Linked DNA regions of Homo sapiens: region 2 is linked to region 1. A link means that fine-mapping ties the variant in region 1 to the expression of a gene that starts in the linked region. Tissue or cell type: whole blood. Region 1 holds a variant in brackets; the other region holds the start of a gene. All regions are shown on one strand. Distances are from middle to middle.

The links. PIP is the estimated chance that this variant, and not a neighbour inherited with it, causes the effect.
Region 2: it holds the start of VEGFB, and the variant in region 1 is fine-mapped to the expression of VEGFB in whole blood (INTERVAL, PIP above 0.99).

What each region holds. Positions count from the first base shown.
Region 1 is chr11:64,373,399-64,381,497 of GRCh38, forward strand. No RefSeq gene overlaps it. Among named protein-coding and RNA genes, the nearest start is that of MIR1237, 8.8 kb to the left of the region's middle. RefSeq lists enhancers at 1-136, 137-690, 5,797-6,414. The variant C/CAA (reference allele first, on the strand shown) is at 3,540.
Region 2 is chr11:64,231,331-64,239,429 of GRCh38, forward strand. It overlaps VEGFB (vascular endothelial growth factor B), which reads left to right and starts at 3,254. Exons shown (of 7, transcript NM_003377.5): 1 at 3,254-3,563; 2 at 4,128-4,170; 3 at 4,483-4,679; 4 at 4,924-4,997; 5 at 5,857-5,892; 6 at 6,090-6,325; 7 at 7,026-7,934. The coding sequence starts at 3,504. The coding sequence ends at 6,303. It overlaps DNAJC4 (DnaJ heat shock protein family (Hsp40) member C4), which reads left to right. Exons shown (of 6, transcript NM_005528.4): 2 at 541-634; 3 at 1,100-1,284; 4 at 1,374-1,535; 5 at 2,564-2,650; 6 at 2,743-2,951. The coding sequence ends at 2,854. It overlaps LOC124902687 (a long non-coding RNA gene), which reads right to left and starts at 40. Exons shown (of 2, transcript XR_007062713.1): 1 at 1-40. RefSeq lists silencers at 2,802-3,291, 3,512-3,881.

The DNA.
Region 1 (8,099 bases):
GATGTCCTGACAGCTCCCGCCCCAGGGTCTGCCTGAACCCCACCCTGGGCCGCCTCCCCATCGTTTCTCTCCCTGTGGCTACCCTGTGAGACCATCTCATGTGGACCTTCCCCTCCTGTCCCCGGGAGGCCTGGGGATCTGGGCTGGGACCCAGAGGTGCCCAGGTGAGGCGAATCAGGCAGTCCTTGTGGGCAGGTGGGGCTCCGGGGGAGTGGAAAGGGTATGCGGGCGCCAGCTGTGTCCCATCCTGGTGGTCTGAAAGAACAGGAAGGGGCCCAGGACAAGGGGCCCTCAGGAGAAGGGAAGAAATTCTGAGGCTCTAATTCTGACTCCTGTGTTACCAGCTGTGTGACTTTAGCAAGTCACCTAACAGCCCCAACCTCCCCTATTTGTCGAAAAGAGGAACTAGAGAATTAACAGATTTAAGAGTATGGTCACTCAGTCACCAGGAATTTATTGAGATTTACTGACCTTTTCCAATGTGTAGGGACCCTCCTGAGCACTCTAGGCGGGAATCTCATTGAAGGAGATGAAAGGGTCCCATTTCATCAGATACTCACAAGCACTGAGTATTACCATTTCAAAACCTTTTCTAATTGAGTGGATGCAAAATAGTCTCTCATCTTCAATTTCTTCACCTCTCATTCCATGTAACTCACAGCCACCCTATGAAAGAGGTATCCTTAGCCTCATTTCTTCCTATTAATTAATTAATTTAACTTTTATTTTAAAAAGAGATTTTTTTTTTTTTGAGACGGAGTCTGGCTCTGTTGTCCAAGGCTGGAGTGCAGGGGTGCGATCTCAGCTCACTGCAACCTCTGCCTCCTGGGTTCCAGTGATTCTCCTGCCTCAGCCTCCCGAGTAGCTGGGATTACAGGCGCCTGCCACCACACCCGGCTAATTTTGTATTTTTAGTAGAGAAGAGGTTTCACCATGTTGGGCAGGCTGGTCTCGAACTCCTGACCTCAGGTGATCCGCCCGCCTCGGCCTCCCAAAGTGCTGGGATTACAGGTGTGAGCCGCTGCACCTGGCCTAATTTAGCTTTTAGAGATGGGGTCTTGCTCTGTTGCCCAGGCTGGAGTGCAGTGGTGCCATCGTAGCTCACTGCAGCCTCAAACTCTTGGGCTCAAGCGATCCTTCTGCTTCAGCCTCCGGAGTACTTAGCCTCATTTCAGGGGTGAAGAAACGGTTCAGAGGATGCAGTAACCCAGAGAAGGGAGGATGCTGGGTGGAAAGAGCAGGGACTTAGAGGAATGAGCCAGCCTTGGTTTGAATCCTGCCTCTTCTCTGTGTGGTCAAGGAGCCTGCGGGTGGGAGATAGATGTGATTGAGCTGCAGGCTGGCCAGGGTGTAAAGCGGCAGAGTGGAAGGGGACACGGTGGGCACAGGCAGGGAAGTAGGGAGGCCAGAGGCCAATGCTCAAGGTCTTAGGTCTGGCCCCCTGCTTCTATACCTTGACTTTGGCTGCTGACTAGCCTTACCTAACATGGAGGCTGGCTCTTCCAGGGGAGCCAGGAGAGGTCACCCTCCTACACTGGGCTTCTGTTTCCACTCTTCAAATGTCCTCAGTGAACAGGCTTGGGCTTCCTGCTCTGATAAAATGTTGGCGCCCCAAGAGGGTCCGACAGCCCTGTAAACCTCTGGCTCCCTCCAAGTCGCTGTTAACTTTTTTTTTTTTTTTTTGGAGACGGAGTTTTGCTCTGGTTGCCCAGGCTGGAGTGTAGTGGTGTGATCTTAGCTCACCGCAACCTCTGCCTCCTGGGTTGAATCAATTCTCCTGCCTCAGCCTCTCGAGTAGCTGGGATTACAGGCATGCGTCTCCATGCCCGGCTAATTTTGTATTTTTAGTAGAGACGGGGTTTCTCCATGTTGGTCAGGCTGGTCTCGAACTCCTGACCTCAGGTCATCCTCCGGCCTTGGCTTCCCAAAGTGGTGGGATTACAGGCGTGAGACACCGCTCCTGGCCTGCTGTTAACTATTAATAACTACTGTTAGAACTAAAGTTCTGGCCGGGCACAGCAGCTCGCGCCTGTAATCCCAGCACTTTAGGAAACCGAGGTGGGCGGATCATCTGAGGTCAGGAGTTCGAGACCAGCCTGGCCAACATGGTGAAACCCTGTCTCTACTAAAAATACAAAAAATAGCCAGGCATTTTGTAATCCCATGCATGTAATCCCAGCTCCTAGGGAGGCTGAGGCAAGAGAATCGCTTGAACCCGGCAGGCGGAGGTTGTGGTGAGCTGAGATGGTGCCACTGCACTCCAGCCTGGGCGACAGGGCGAGACTCCATCTCAAAGTTCTAGAGTCACTGTTTGACTCTAAGCAAGTTACTTCTCCCTAAGGTACTTTGGGAGTGTAAACAAAAATATTCCATATGAACGTAGAGATTGCAAACTGGCCTGTGCCTGGCCTATAGAAACTCATTTTTGGGGCCAGCACTTTTTTTTTTTTTTTTTGAGACAGTGTTTTATTCTGTCGCCTACCCTTGAGTGTAGTGGTGCAATCTCGGCTCACTACAGCCTCAACCTTCTGGGCCCAAGTGATCCTCCCACCTCAGCCACCCAAGTAGCTGGGATTACAGGCATGCGCCACCATGCCTGGCTAATTTTTGTATTTTTGTAGAGATGGGGTTTCGCCAAGTTGCCCAGGCAGGTCTTGAACTCCTGAGCTCAAGTGATCTGCTTCCCAAAGTGTTGGGACTGCACGCATTAGCCACCGCACCTGGCCTAAGCACACGCTGTAAAATGAGGAAAAGCATATGGAATCCTAGATGTGAGGCTTTTGCTGATGAGCTGGAAGGGCTGGCCCTGGGGCAGTCTTCCTGCATGGTCTAATCAGCTGGAGCAGAATCACGCTGCCGCCACAGACAGGGCCTCTGCTTTCCAGGTTGCCGCAGTCCCCACCACTCCCTGTGGTTACACCAGCTCTGTCCTGCATTCATCCCTCTGGCCCTCTAGGCATTTGAGTTTGTGACTCTGATATAAACAGTCTCCTTCCACGGTCACTGCTGCACAAAAATGGGCTTTGTGAAATGTCAAAGATACCCCTTAAATCTTTTATTTTTGGCCAGGTGCGGTGGCTCATCCCTGTAATTCCATCACTTGGGGAGGCCGAGGCGGGTAGATCACTTGAGGTCAGGAGTTCGAGACCAACCCAGCCATGGCAAAACCCCGTCTCTACTAAAAATATAAAAATTAGCCGGGTGTGGTGGCGCAGGCCTGTAATCCCAGCTACCTGGGAGGCTGAGGGAGGGGAGTCGCTTGAACCCGGGAGGTGGAGGTTGCAGTGAGCTGAGATGGCGCCACTGCACTCCAGCCTGGGCGACAGAGCGAGATTCCATCTCAAAAAAAAAAAAATCTTTTATTTTGTTTTAAAACTTAAATTTAGTTTCTATTTGTATTTGTGAAAGACGATAAATTTGGCCGAGTGGGGTGGCTCTCTCCTATAATCCCAGCACTGTGGGAGGCCAAGGAGGGAGAATCCCTTGAGCTCAGGAGTTCCAGACTAACCTGGACACCATAGTGAGATGAGAGCTTGTCT[C/CAA]AAAAAAAAAAAATATATATATATATAATTCATATGATTCAAAATTCAAAGGATCCATAAAAGTACATAGTGAAAAATGTTCTTCCACATGCTGACCCTCTGCCACGTACCTTCTGTTGTTGCCAGAGGAAGCTAATGTGTTCTTGTGTAGTTTTCCAGGAATATTTATGTGTAGTCGAACAACTATATAATAATATGCATGTATAAGTAAAAATTCATATTAATTAAATGTTAATTTTAGAAAAAATCAGTAAGAGGCTGGGCACGATGGCTCACGCCTGTAATCCCAGCACTTTGGGAGGCCGAGGTGGGCGGATCAAGAGGTCAGGAGATCGAGATCATCCTGGCAAACACGGTGAAACCCTGTCTCTACTAAAAATACAAAAAATTAGCTGGGTGTGGTGGCGGGCTCCTGTAGTCCCAGCTACTCAGGAGGTTGAGGCAGGAGAATGGCGTGAACCTGGGAGGCGGAGCTTGCAGTGAGCAGAGATTGCGCCACTGCACTCTAACCTGGGCAACAGAGCGAGACTCCGTCTCAAAAAAAAAAAAAAAGAAAAAATCAGTAAATGCAAAGGAGATTTCAAAAAATCACTCGTGGCATTACTCTCCATAGATAAACTGTGTTAGTTAATATTTTGATGCATTCAATTCTTTTTTTTTTTTTTTTTTTTTGAGACAGATTCTTGCTGTGACACCCAGGCTGGAGTACAGTGGCGGTATCTCAGCTCACTGCAACCTCCCACTCCTAAGTTCGAGTGATTCTCCTGTCTCAGCCTCCCAGGTAGCTGGGATTACAGGTGCGCAACATCCCACCAGGCTAATTTTTGTATTATTAGTAGAGACGGGGTTTTACCACGTTGGCCAGGCTGGTCTCGAACTCCTGACCTCAGGTGATCCACCCGTGTTGGCCTCCCAAAGTGCCACTTACAGGCATGAGCCACTTCGCCTGGTCTGATGCATTCACTTCTAAGTTTTTCTTTGTTTTTTTTCTTTTTGAGGCAGGGTCTCACTCTGTCACCCAGGCGGGAGTGCAGTGACATGATCATAGTTCATTGCAGCTTCAACCTCCTGGGCTGAAGCAATTCTCACACCTCATTTTTTGATTTTGTTGTTGTTTTTTGTAGAGATGGAGTCTCACTATGTTGTCCAGGCTGGTCTCGAACTCCTGGGCTCAAGCAAGCCTCCCACCTCGGACTCCCAAAGTTTTGGGATTACAGGTGTGAGCCACCATGCCCGGCCTAGAATTTTCTTTATTGATACAGATTTTTAGTTAAAATGGCATCAAAATGTAAATAGGTTATTATAGCCTGTCTAAAGTCAAAAATAGATTGTGAATATCTTTCTATGTCAATGACTATATTTTACAATTATTCTTTGTAGCTGTAGGGTGCTTCATTATATGGGTATGCAATGATTTATTTAGATTGTTTCTATTTTTGGCTACAGCTCCTTGCTATTTTAAACAGTGCTGCAGTGAACATCCTTGTACCTACGTCTTTGCTCACCTGTCCAAATATTTCCTTAGGATACGTTTCCTAGAAGTGAAGTTAATAGGCTAAAGGATGTGCCGCTGCATGCACGTTTTAAAGGTCTTTGATATATGTGATCACACTGCCCTTCAGAAAGATCCTATCATTTTATATGACTTGCAGCAGCACGAGCAAGATCCAGGAAGCACTGTCTCCTTTAAAATGAAATAGCAGGCCTCGCCAGCGGAGTGTGTCCTTGCCCTCATTTTTCTTGGCGGAGCTCCTGGAGGCTGATGCAGGAGCGGAGGCTCTCCCTTTCCTGCCCTGCAGTCGCCCGCTGGGCCCGTGATGGTGGTGGAGGGTGTTGTGGACCATGAGTAGGGGACGAGGGACAGAAGTGGTGGATCTGACCTTTGTCTCTGCGGGAATGGGCTGGGGACACAGTCTGCATGGGGGAGGGAGAGAGTGATTCCAGGGATGTGCTGAAGGGTCCCCAGGGAGTGGGCATGCTTGAGGGCAGGAGAGCTGGGCGTCGGGGAAGCTTTGCAGAACCATGAACTGAGCCGCCGAGTGGCTTCATACCAGGGCTCTTCTCCCAGCTGTGCAGTCGTGACCAAAACCACTTGGGCTTGAGTCTCCGTGGCCTCTAGAGTGAAGTGCGGATGGAACAACAGCCACTGGAATTGCCGACGGGTGCACGGCCAAACGCTTGGCAAAGTGCGTGGCGCGCTGGGATTCCCCCACAAAAGGCAGTTTACCAAAAAATTATTAAGAGAACCCAGGAAAATTGAGGCCAGTTCAGGCTTGCTCAGGAAGGGACCCATGTCCAGGAAAGAGAGAGCGATGCTCTTCCCTCGCTCCCGGTCCCCCTTCCCTGGGCCACCGGCCTTTCCCTTCCGGCATCAGCCAGAGCCAAGTGTTCTGAACACTACCCCCGCCCCCACGAAAAGTGAGGACCAGATGGCGCCCCACCCTCTGAATACCTCTCAGCACGGAGTGTGAATCGCCACCGACCTGGCGTGTGTCAGTAGCTGCCTGGGAGCGGCCAGGATGGGCGTGGGAGCACACTCTTGTGTATGTGAATGTGTGCGTATGTGAGTAAATAAGTGTGTCAGTGTGAGATTGTGTGTGAGCACCTGTGTGTCTATGTGAGCGTGTGAAGACGTGTGAGTGAATATGAGGATGCTAGGGAGCATGTGAGTGCGAACTCATGAGTGCACGAGTGTGTGGGTGTATGGGAGTGTGTATGTGAGCACGTGAGTGTGAGAATGTGGATGAGTGTGGGTGTGTGTAAGCACAAGTGTGTGGGTGTGTATGCAGGTGTGTGCTGTGAGGATTGTGTTTGCATGTGTAAGTGTGAATGTGTATGAATGTATGTGAACAAAGCCTGTGTGTTTTGTGTGATTTGAGTGTATGTGTGAACATGTGTGACAGTGTGGACATATAAGTGTGAGTGTGAACAAAGCCTGAGTATGTTGTGATTGTAAGCATGTGACAGTGTGTGTGCATGAGTGTGTGAATGTGTGTAAGAATGTGTCAGTGTGTGTCAGTGTATGTATGTGTGTAAATGTGTCAATGTGTTGAGTGTATGTATGTGTGTTAGTGTGTGTCAGTGTGGCTGTGTCAGTTTGAGTGTGAGTGCACATGTGTGAGCATGTGTGTGGGTGTGAGCGTGTGTGTGTGGGTGTGTGTGTGAGCATGTCAACGCGTGGGTGTGAGCGTGTGAGTGTGGGTGTGAGCGTGTGGACGTGTGTGGGTGTGAACGCGTGTGAGTGTGTGGGTTTGAACGTGTGTGTGGGTGTGAGCGTGTGAACGTGTGCGGGTGTGAGCGTGTGTGTGTATGTGGGTGTGAGTGTGTGAGCGTGAGTGTGAGAGTGTGTGTGAGTGTGTCGCTCTCTGAGGGAAGCACACAGCGCCGTGGTAGAAGCTCTGAAGTAAACACTTCGTTCTTCAGTTGATTCCCCTCCACGGGGACCCTGTTGCCTACTGGGACTGTATTGTAGCCGGGGGATGCGGGATTCAGACCCGGCCAGGAAGGCCTGACTCTCCGCACTGGGTGGGGCCGGCCTGGAGGCTGCAGAGGGGAGCCGCGGGCAGGCACGGGGCGGCCGCTGGCCGTGAAGTGATGTGCTGGTTGACGCTGTGGGCATGTAGGGGCTGTCAGGGGAGCGGTGACAGAACCAGGGCCAGGCGGGAACTGGAATCTCCAGGGATCTTGCTTTGCCTGTGAGTGGGGAAAGAAGGGCTGTGGGGAGAAGCACCGCAGGACTAGGCTGGGGGGACTGGAGCCCGGAGGTAACCCTGAGGCTGGCTTGTGACTTCATCTCCAGGGCAGACGCAGCCTGGGATGTGTGTGGGGAGTCCCTGGCCTGCTTGGAAAGGGAAGCCCTTCCTCCCCAAAGCTGAGCCTTCCCAGAAGGGGTGCTCCGGCTCTGCTGTGGGGAAGACTCTGCCCTCCGCAGCTGCCCTCAGATGTCACTGGGGGAGGGTATCCCTAATAACTGTTGTGTAAAGTGTAAGAAGCTCAGGGCACTGACTCAGGTGTGCAAGAAAAATCACTTTTTTTTTTTTTTTTGAGATGGAGTCTTACTCTGTTGCCTAGGCTGGAGTGCAGTGGCACAATCTCAGCTCACTGTAACCTCCGCCTCCTGGGTTCAAGTGATCCTCCTGCCTCAGCCTCTCAAGTAGCTGGAATTACAAGTGTGCACCACCACACCCAGCTAATTTTTGTATTTTTAGTAGAGACGAGCTTTCACTATGTTGGCCAGGCTGGTCTCAAACTCCTGACCTCAAGTGATCTGCCCGCTTCGGCCTCCCAAAGTGCTGGGATTGCAGGTGTAAGCCACCGCCTCCCACCACTTGTTTTTAACCACTCAGCAGTGTTTCTGACATCAAGACCTTGGCTGAACTGGCAGAGAAAAAGTAGCTTCCAATTTTCCTGGTGAACTTCCTACCCTGCTCAGGGTCCTGTCACAGCGGCAGAGACCTCTGAGGGACCAGAGCAGCAAGTAGGGGCCAGGAGGGCCCCCATCATGGGTGCACACAGGAACTTCTGACACGTCCACACTCCAGTCCTTAAAGCCCACAAGAT
Region 2 (8,099 bases), 140 kb before region 1:
TTCTCTTTTTCCTTTTTTTTTTTTTTTTTTGAGATGGAGTTTCGCTCGTTGCCCAGGCTGGAGTGCAATGGAGCAATCTCGGCTCACCACAACCTCCGCCTCCCGGGTTCAAGCGATTCTCCTGCCTCAGCCTCCCGAGTAGCTGGGATTACGGGCATGCACCACCACGCCCGGCTAATTTTGTATTTTTAGGAGAGACAGGGTTTCTCCATGTTAGTCAGGCTGGTCTTGAACTCCCGACCTCAGGTGATCCGCCCTCCTCGGCCTCCCAAAATGCTGGATTACAGGCGTGAGCCACCGCGCCTGTCCAGGAATCAGTTTTTTCCAACAAGTTTTTGGACTCCACTTTGAGAAATCCTGACCTGCACTATGCCTGAAACACTCCAAAGGGGGTGCTGATCTGGAGACAGATCTGTCCTGGGACCTGTTTCAGCCCTGTCAGCTCCTGGTGGCTGAGTTGAAGGGTGTGGCCCAGAAGGCAGGGCAGAGCTAGCTTCTGGGTTCCTTCAGCCCCTGCAAGGTTTGGGACTCTGTCCACAGGTCCAGACCCAGTACTTATTATGAACTGTTGGGGGTGCATCCTGGTGCCAGCACTGAGGAAGTTAAACGAGCTTTCTTCTCCAAGTCCAAAGAGGTACCCGTACCCCTGAGGTGGGGAGGGGGAGCAGGAACTTTGAGCCAGTGGGGGTGTGCTTCAAATTCCCAGGAGTAGACCAGCATCTCTGGCGGGTGCCACATTTTTTCAGCCCTCATAGGGAGTGGCAGGTGCTCAATGGTAGGGGAAAGGCTGTGGGCAGGAGCCAGGGGTCCTGTCTGATGGGCTGGGCTTGGTTTTCTTGACCTGCCTGCCTGCTCTTGAGAAACCTGGACCAGGGCATATGGTGAATGCAGGGGGCTGGCAGGTGGGGAGGGCTTGAACACAGGAGGAAGCAGGAGTCCATGCTCTCTGGCCTTCTGAGGAGTGGGCAGGCCTGAGTGAGGGTCACTGACCAGGCAGGGCCTCTGGGTATGACTGGAGCCCTGGTGGGTGGATGTCATCAGCATGGGTCCTGGGGAGGGACAGGCAAAGGGAGATAAGGGGAGTCCTGCCCCACCCCAGCTGCACCCAGACCGGGACCCTGGGAACCCAAGCCTGCACAGCCGCTTTGTGGAGCTGAGCGAGGCATACCGTGTGCTCAGCCGTGAGCAGAGCCGCCGCAGCTATGATGACCAGCTCCGCTCAGGTAGTCCCCCAAAGTCTCCACGAACCACAGTCCATGACAAGTCTGCCCACCAAACACACAGGTACAGTAATCCTGCCCTCAGCTTGCCCCACCCCCAGGTCTCTTGGGTAGTCTCATTTCCACAATGTCCCTTCCTCTGCCTCCCAGCAGCTCCTGGACACCCCCCAACGCACAGTACTGGTCCCAGTTTCACAGCGTGAGGCCACAGGGGCCCCAGTTGAGGCAGCAGCAACACAAACAAAACAAACAAGTGCTGGGGTACTGCCTCCTCCTCATGCTGGCGGGCATGGGCCTGCACTACATTGCCTTCAGGTGATGCCTGTTCTCCCCGGGGTGATGGGCAGAGGGCAGGAGGGTGGGTGAATTCCAGTGTGGTCAGCCAGTCCTCCACAGCACCTCGTGGCCCGTACTCTTGTGTCTCTCAAGCTAAGAGCTGCTTGAAGTTGGTCTCTGGAGCCTCTCCTTACTTATTAAAGGCAGCGCTGCACCAAGAGCTAACGTTGTCATTTACAGTTTTTCATATTTCGAATGTAAATCTTTCATGCTGGCTGCCAGGAAGGGATTGAGCCAAACAAAATCAAGCACAAGCAGCAAATGCAGCACAGCTCATTCATTTGGCAGTAGGCATCTCCCTGCCACTCTCACGCGTGCCACGGAGCTGATTCTCTTTATTCTCTTTTTTTCTTTTTTTTTTCTTTGAGATGGAGTCTCACTCTGTTGCCCAGGCTGCAGTGCAGTGGCGCAATCTCGGCTCACTGCAACCCCACCTCTGCCTCCCAGGTTCAAGCAATTCTTCTGTCTCAGCCTCCCGAGTAGCTGGGACTACAGGCGTCCACCACCACACCCGGCTAGTTGTTTTGTATTTTTAGTAGAGATGGGGTTTCACCATATTGGCCAGGCTGGTCTCAAACTCCTGACCTCAGGTGATCCACCCGCCTCAGCCTCCCAAAGTACTGGGATTACAGGTGAGAGCTACCGCGCCTGGCCACAAAGCCGATTTTCTATAGCAGATACCTAAAGGCCAGTGCCCACTGCTAGCAGCCTGCCTAGTTCAGTGATGGAGTTAGACGCATACCCTTTCTAGTCTTCTGGGAGGAGCACCCCCATGTCCACAGCTGCTGTCACACCTCAAAGTGACCAGGGACTTCGGATGCCATTGGACCCTAGACAAGCCAGGGCCACTCTGAGCCCTCCCTATCTATCACAGGAAGGGTTAGACTGAGGTTCCTAACCCTGTGTAAGGGTAAAAAGCTGTGAGGCCCCTAGAGTGGGGTGGAAGGGGGCAGGACTTCAGGGACAGCAGGAATTGGATTCCCAGGGTTAATTGTGACCCATTGCAGGAAGGTGAAGCAGATGCACCTTAACTTCATGGATGAAAAGGATCGGATCATCACAGCCTTCTACAACGAAGCCCGGGCACGGGCCAGGTCTGTCCCTGCTCTATTCTGCTCCCTGCTCCCTGTCCAGGAACCACACTTCGGGATCCCTATCCCAACCACCCAGGTGCCCTCTCCTCCAGGGCCAACAGAGGCATCCTTCAGCAGGAGCGACAACGGCTAGGGCAGCGGCAGCCGCCACCATCCGAGCCAACCCAAGGCCCCGAGATCGTGCCCCGGGGCGCCGGCCCCTGAGGGGCTCACCTGGATGGGGCCTGCAGTGCGTTCCCGCTTTGCTTCCTTCCCTGGACGGCCCGCTCCCCGAAACGCGCGCAATAAAGTGATTCGCAGAGCTCGTGTCCGGCTCCCTCCTTAAGGCCCGACGCCCCCGGCCCCGGCCTCGCCAAGGGGCAGCGCCCCGCCCTCCGGGTAGTGGCGGCGGCGACTGGGGAGCCCAGCCTCCTGGGCGGTGCGTCCCCTTTCCCCTGCCGCGGCGGGAGGCGGGAGGGGGTGTGTGGAGGAGGCGGGCCCCGCCGACGGCCTCGCCCCCCCACCCCGCCGCCCCGCCCCCGCCCCACGGGCCGGTGGGGAGCGCGTGTCTGGGTCACATGAGCCGCCTGCCCGCCAGCCCGGGCCCAGCCCCCCGCCGCCCCCGCCGTCCCCGCCGCCGCTGCCCGCCGCCACCGGCCGCCCGCCCGCCCGGCTCCTCCGGCCGCCTCCGCTGCGCTGCGCTGCGCTGCCTGCACCCAGGGCTCGGGAGGGGGCCGCGGAGGAGTCGCCCCCCGCGCCCGGCCCCCGCCCGCCGCGCCCGGGCCCGCGCCATGGGGCTCTGGCTGTCGCCGCCCCCCGCGCCGCCGGGCTAGGGCGATGCGGGCGCCCCCGGCGGGCGGCCCCGGCGGGCACCATGAGCCCTCTGCTCCGCCGCCTGCTGCTCGCCGCACTCCTGCAGCTGGCCCCCGCCCAGGTACGTGCGGCCCGACAGCGCGCCCGCCCGCCCGCCGTGCCCTCTCTCAAGGTTGGCGGAAGTGAGGAGGCGACCCGCGGCCTCGGCCGAGGGGATCTGCGGGGTCCGGCCTTGGACGCGGGCGTCTCGGGGGCCCGGCGCGTGCATCCCCTGGGAGGTGCCCCTCCCCGCTGGCCCGCCAGCCCCAGTCTGGGGCCACTCCTCCGCCCCACCCCGTCCCCTGGGCACCGCCGGGGGCGGGGCTCCCTCGGTGCCTGCAGGACCTGCTTCGGTGGGCACTGTGCGCGCTCCTGATCTGCATGCAGCCCCCAAACATGCTCGGCTCCGCGGCCTGGAGATTTGGCGCGGCCACCAGAGCACCTGTTGCGTTTTGGGCCAGGGCAGGTCCCGGGTGGCCAGGAGAGGACAGGTAAAGCTAGAGCAGTGGCCGCAGGAACAGAGCAATCTGGAAAGATGTCAGAGAGGTGGTGAAGCCTACTGATGCAAGGGCAAAGCCCCAGGGACGGTGACAGGGCCACACCCTCCTAAAGTGTACCTTGGGTACAGGTCTTTTCTCTCCCACAGGCCCCTGTCTCCCAGCCTGATGCCCCTGGCCACCAGAGGAAAGGTAATACTTACAAAAACTCGGCACTAGCCAGCACTAAGAGGGTTTGTCATGGGCCCTGATTCCAGGTGTCCATCATCTTGTGTAACTCCCCTAGAAGATTCAAACTATTATTCTACCCATTTCACAGAGGAGGAAATTGAGGCAGTGGGGTTACTGGGATCTGGATAAACAGGGCAGGGGAAGACAGGTTGTGAGGGCAGAGTGGGGAGGGCTAGTGGAGGGTGGCTGTGACTTGGGGACTGGGGAGGACAGATGCTGGGAGCAGCTGCAGGAAAACCAGTGAGGACTTAACCCCTACCGGTCTGCTCCCAGTGGTGTCATGGATAGATGTGTATACTCGCGCTACCTGCCAGCCCCGGGAGGTGGTGGTGCCCTTGACTGTGGAGCTCATGGGCACCGTGGCCAAACAGCTGGTGCCCAGCTGCGTGACTGTGCAGCGCTGTGGTGGCTGCTGCCCTGACGATGGCCTGGAGTGTGTGCCCACTGGGCAGCACCAAGTCCGGATGCAGGTACTGGGCAGGTGGGGCAACGGGCAGGGGATGCAGGTACTGGGCAGGTGGGGCAGCGGGCAGGGTGGATGCTGGCTGGCTCTGGGGCTGGGGCAGCCTGGAGACTGATGCACAGGAGACAGGGTTGGGGGGAGGGCTGGTGGCCAGCCTCCCGGCTGTTGGGTGAGCTTTTCTCCCTTCAGTCTTAGAGCATCCCCTTTCTCTCTCTCCCTCACTGTCCCCCCTGTTCTTCTCCTGAGCACAGATCCTCATGATCCGGTACCCGAGCAGTCAGCTGGGGGAGATGTCCCTGGAAGAACACAGCCAGTGTGAATGCAGGTGCCAGCCAGGCCCAACTTCTGAGCTCGCAGAGGCCAGGCTTGGGGGGTGCTGGGTATGGTGGTCCACAGAACTGGGGACCAGGTTCCTAAGAGTAGAACCAAGGGGCCGGGCGTGGTAGCTCACGCCTGTAATCCCAGCACTTTGGGAGGCCGAGGCGGGCGGATCATGAGGTCAGGAGATCGAGACCATCCTGGCTAACATGGTAAAAACCTGTCTCTACTAAAAAAATACAAAAAATTAGCCGGGCGTGGTGGCGGGCACCTGTAGTCCCAGCTACTCCGGAGGCTGAGGCAGGAGAATGGCATGAACCTGGGAGGCGTAGCTTGCAGTGAGCCAAGATCGTGCCACTGCATTCCAGCCTGGGCGACAGAGCAAGACTCTGCCACAAAAAAAAAAAAAAAAAAAAAAAAAAAAGAGTAGAGCCAAGGGTAGGCCTTGGATCTGGGGCAACAAAGTAGGATGCTTGGGCCGGGGGTAGTGGCTCACACCTATAATCCCAGCACTTTGGGAGGCCCAGGCAGGCAGATCACCTGAGGTAAGGCGTTTGAGACCAGCCTGGCCAACATGGTGAAACCCCATCTCTACTAAAAAAAAATACAAAAATTAGCCGCGCATGGTGGCAGGTGCCTGTAATCCCAGCTACTTGGGAGGCTGAGACAAGAGAATAGCTTGAACCTGGGAGGCGGAGGTTGCAGTGAGCCGAGACCACGCCACTGCACTCCAGCCTGGGCAAGAAGAGGGAAACACAGTCTCAAAGAGAGAGAGAGAGAGAGAGAGAGAGAGAGAGAGAGAGTAGGATGCTGGGATTTCCTGATCTTCCTCTTGTTTGTCTGTGTCTGTCTATCTTACTTTTCAGACCTAAAAAAAAGGACAGTGCTGTGAAGCCAGACAGGTGAGTCTTTTGGACTCCAGCTGAGTAGGGGTATGGGGAGTACAAGTGAGTCCAGAAGCTGTTGCTCCTCTTTCTCCTCCCACCCGTCCCCCACTTTCCCTTTTCCTCTGCTCCCCAAGCCTGTGTTCTCTGCCCCGACCCCAGCTCTAGGGAAGACTCTTCCTTCCCACCCCAGACATGTCGCTTCTCCTCCCTAGGGCTGCCACTCCCCACCACCGTCCCCAGCCCCGTTCTGTTCCGGGCTGGGACTCTGCCCCCGGAGCACCCTCCCCAGCTGACATCACCCATCCCACTCCAGCCCCAGGCCCCTCTGCCCACGCTGCACCCAGCACCACCAGCGCCCTGACCCCCGGACCTGCCGCTGCCGCTGCCGACGCCGCAGCTTCCTCCGTTGCCAAGGGCGGGGCTTAGAGCTCAACCCAGACACCTGCAGGTGAGGCGTCTGTGGGGTGGTGTTTGTTTGGGAAGGCACCAAGGCCCTGTCCTGGAGCAGGTCCAGGGTGAGCCTGCCAGTAGGAGGAGGGCCAGGGAAGGGGAAACTGTTGAATGTGTTGAACAAATATTTACCAAACAGCTGCTGGCACCTGGAGCTGTATAAGCAAGTCCAACATTCTAACTCAGGAGTCAGATACAGGAGGGACAATGCCAGCAGAGGATGTCAAGGGCTGTGGTGAGGGGTACCTGGCCTCGTCTTTCAGAGGTCAGAGATCTCTTGGAGGAGGTGACATCTGCCCGGAGTAGAAATGTAGGACACAGCTTTTCCAGCTTGCAGTTCGGGCCTTCCCAGAAGCCCCTGTGGTAGACATCTGCCCTTACCTACGGGCTTCAAGAGGCCAGGGGACATAGTGGAACCCTTGTCCACCCTTACCTGATGTGTTTCTCACCATCCGTGTCCCGCAGTGAGGCCATGGGGTGAAATCATATGGGCAGGGCCAGTGGGGGCTCCCGAGGAGTGTCAGGAGGGGATGACCTTTGCAAAAGGTTCATCCTTCGCCCTGCAGCCTCCAGTGCCCAGGGCCGAGTGGTGTGGCAGGATGCTCAGGTTGTGATCTTAGTGGGCCCGAGGCACACATGAGTCCAGGGCTGGGGCTGCGCTCCAGCCAGCATGAACAGATCACTTCCTCCCTCCTCAGGTGCCGGAAGCTGCGAAGGTGACACATGGCTTTTCAGACTCAGCAGGGTGACTTGCCTCAGAGGCTATATCCCAGTGGGGGAACAAAGAGGAGCCTGGTAAAAAACAGCCAAGCCCCCAAGACCTCAGCCCAGGCAGAAGCTGCTCTAGGACCTGGGCCTCTCAGAGGGCTCTTCTGCCATCCCTTGTCTCCCTGAGGCCATCATCAAACAGGACAGAGTTGGAAGAGGAGACTGGGAGGCAGCAAGAGGGGTCACATACCAGCTCAGGGGAGAATGGAGTACTGTCTCAGTTTCTAACCACTCTGTGCAAGTAAGCATCTTACAACTGGCTCTTCCTCCCCTCACTAAGAAGACCCAAACCTCTGCATAATGGGATTTGGGCTTTGGTACAAGAACTGTGACCCCCAACCCTGATAAAAGAGATGGAAGGAGCTGTCCCTGCCTGTGTCACTGTTTGTCACTGTCCAGGCTGGCTGGTTTGGGCATGAATGTCTGCATCACTAAATCCAGAGCTTGTCTTGCTCCCTCATTGTGCAGATGGAGGAAATGAGGACTAAGGCCCCACAGCAGATCCCAGGCAGGGCCAGAATTATGTATTCATCACTTTCAAGTTATTGCCACGCATGGGAGTCAGGGATAGCCCAGTCAATACAGACTGCCTGCCCTCCTGCTCTTCACCAGGGTTCTTTTCTAGAAGGAGACAGCCTTCTGTGGCCAGAGAGCTTGGGGTAGGACCCAGATCTACTGAGTGACCTTGCTTGTCACTACCCCTGCCTCTCTGAGCAGCAGTTTCCACATGTGCACATAGAGGGAACAGAAGATTGCTGTGGTTGGCGTCCTCGGGCCCCAGAGAAGTTTGAGACTATCTTTACGTAATAGAAAAGAACACTTGTTCTTCCTGCCAGGCAGCGCTTTCAGCATCTGCTGCTTTTTGTTCCCTGCAGCTTGAATCTAAAGCCTCAGCACCTGCCCTGTCTTAACTTCACTCCCACCTCCCTGAAAGGGAAGCACCGCAAGTCTGGGGCTGGTGGGCCTGGTTTGGGCGGCAGGCTCCCCTCAACCCAACCCACAGT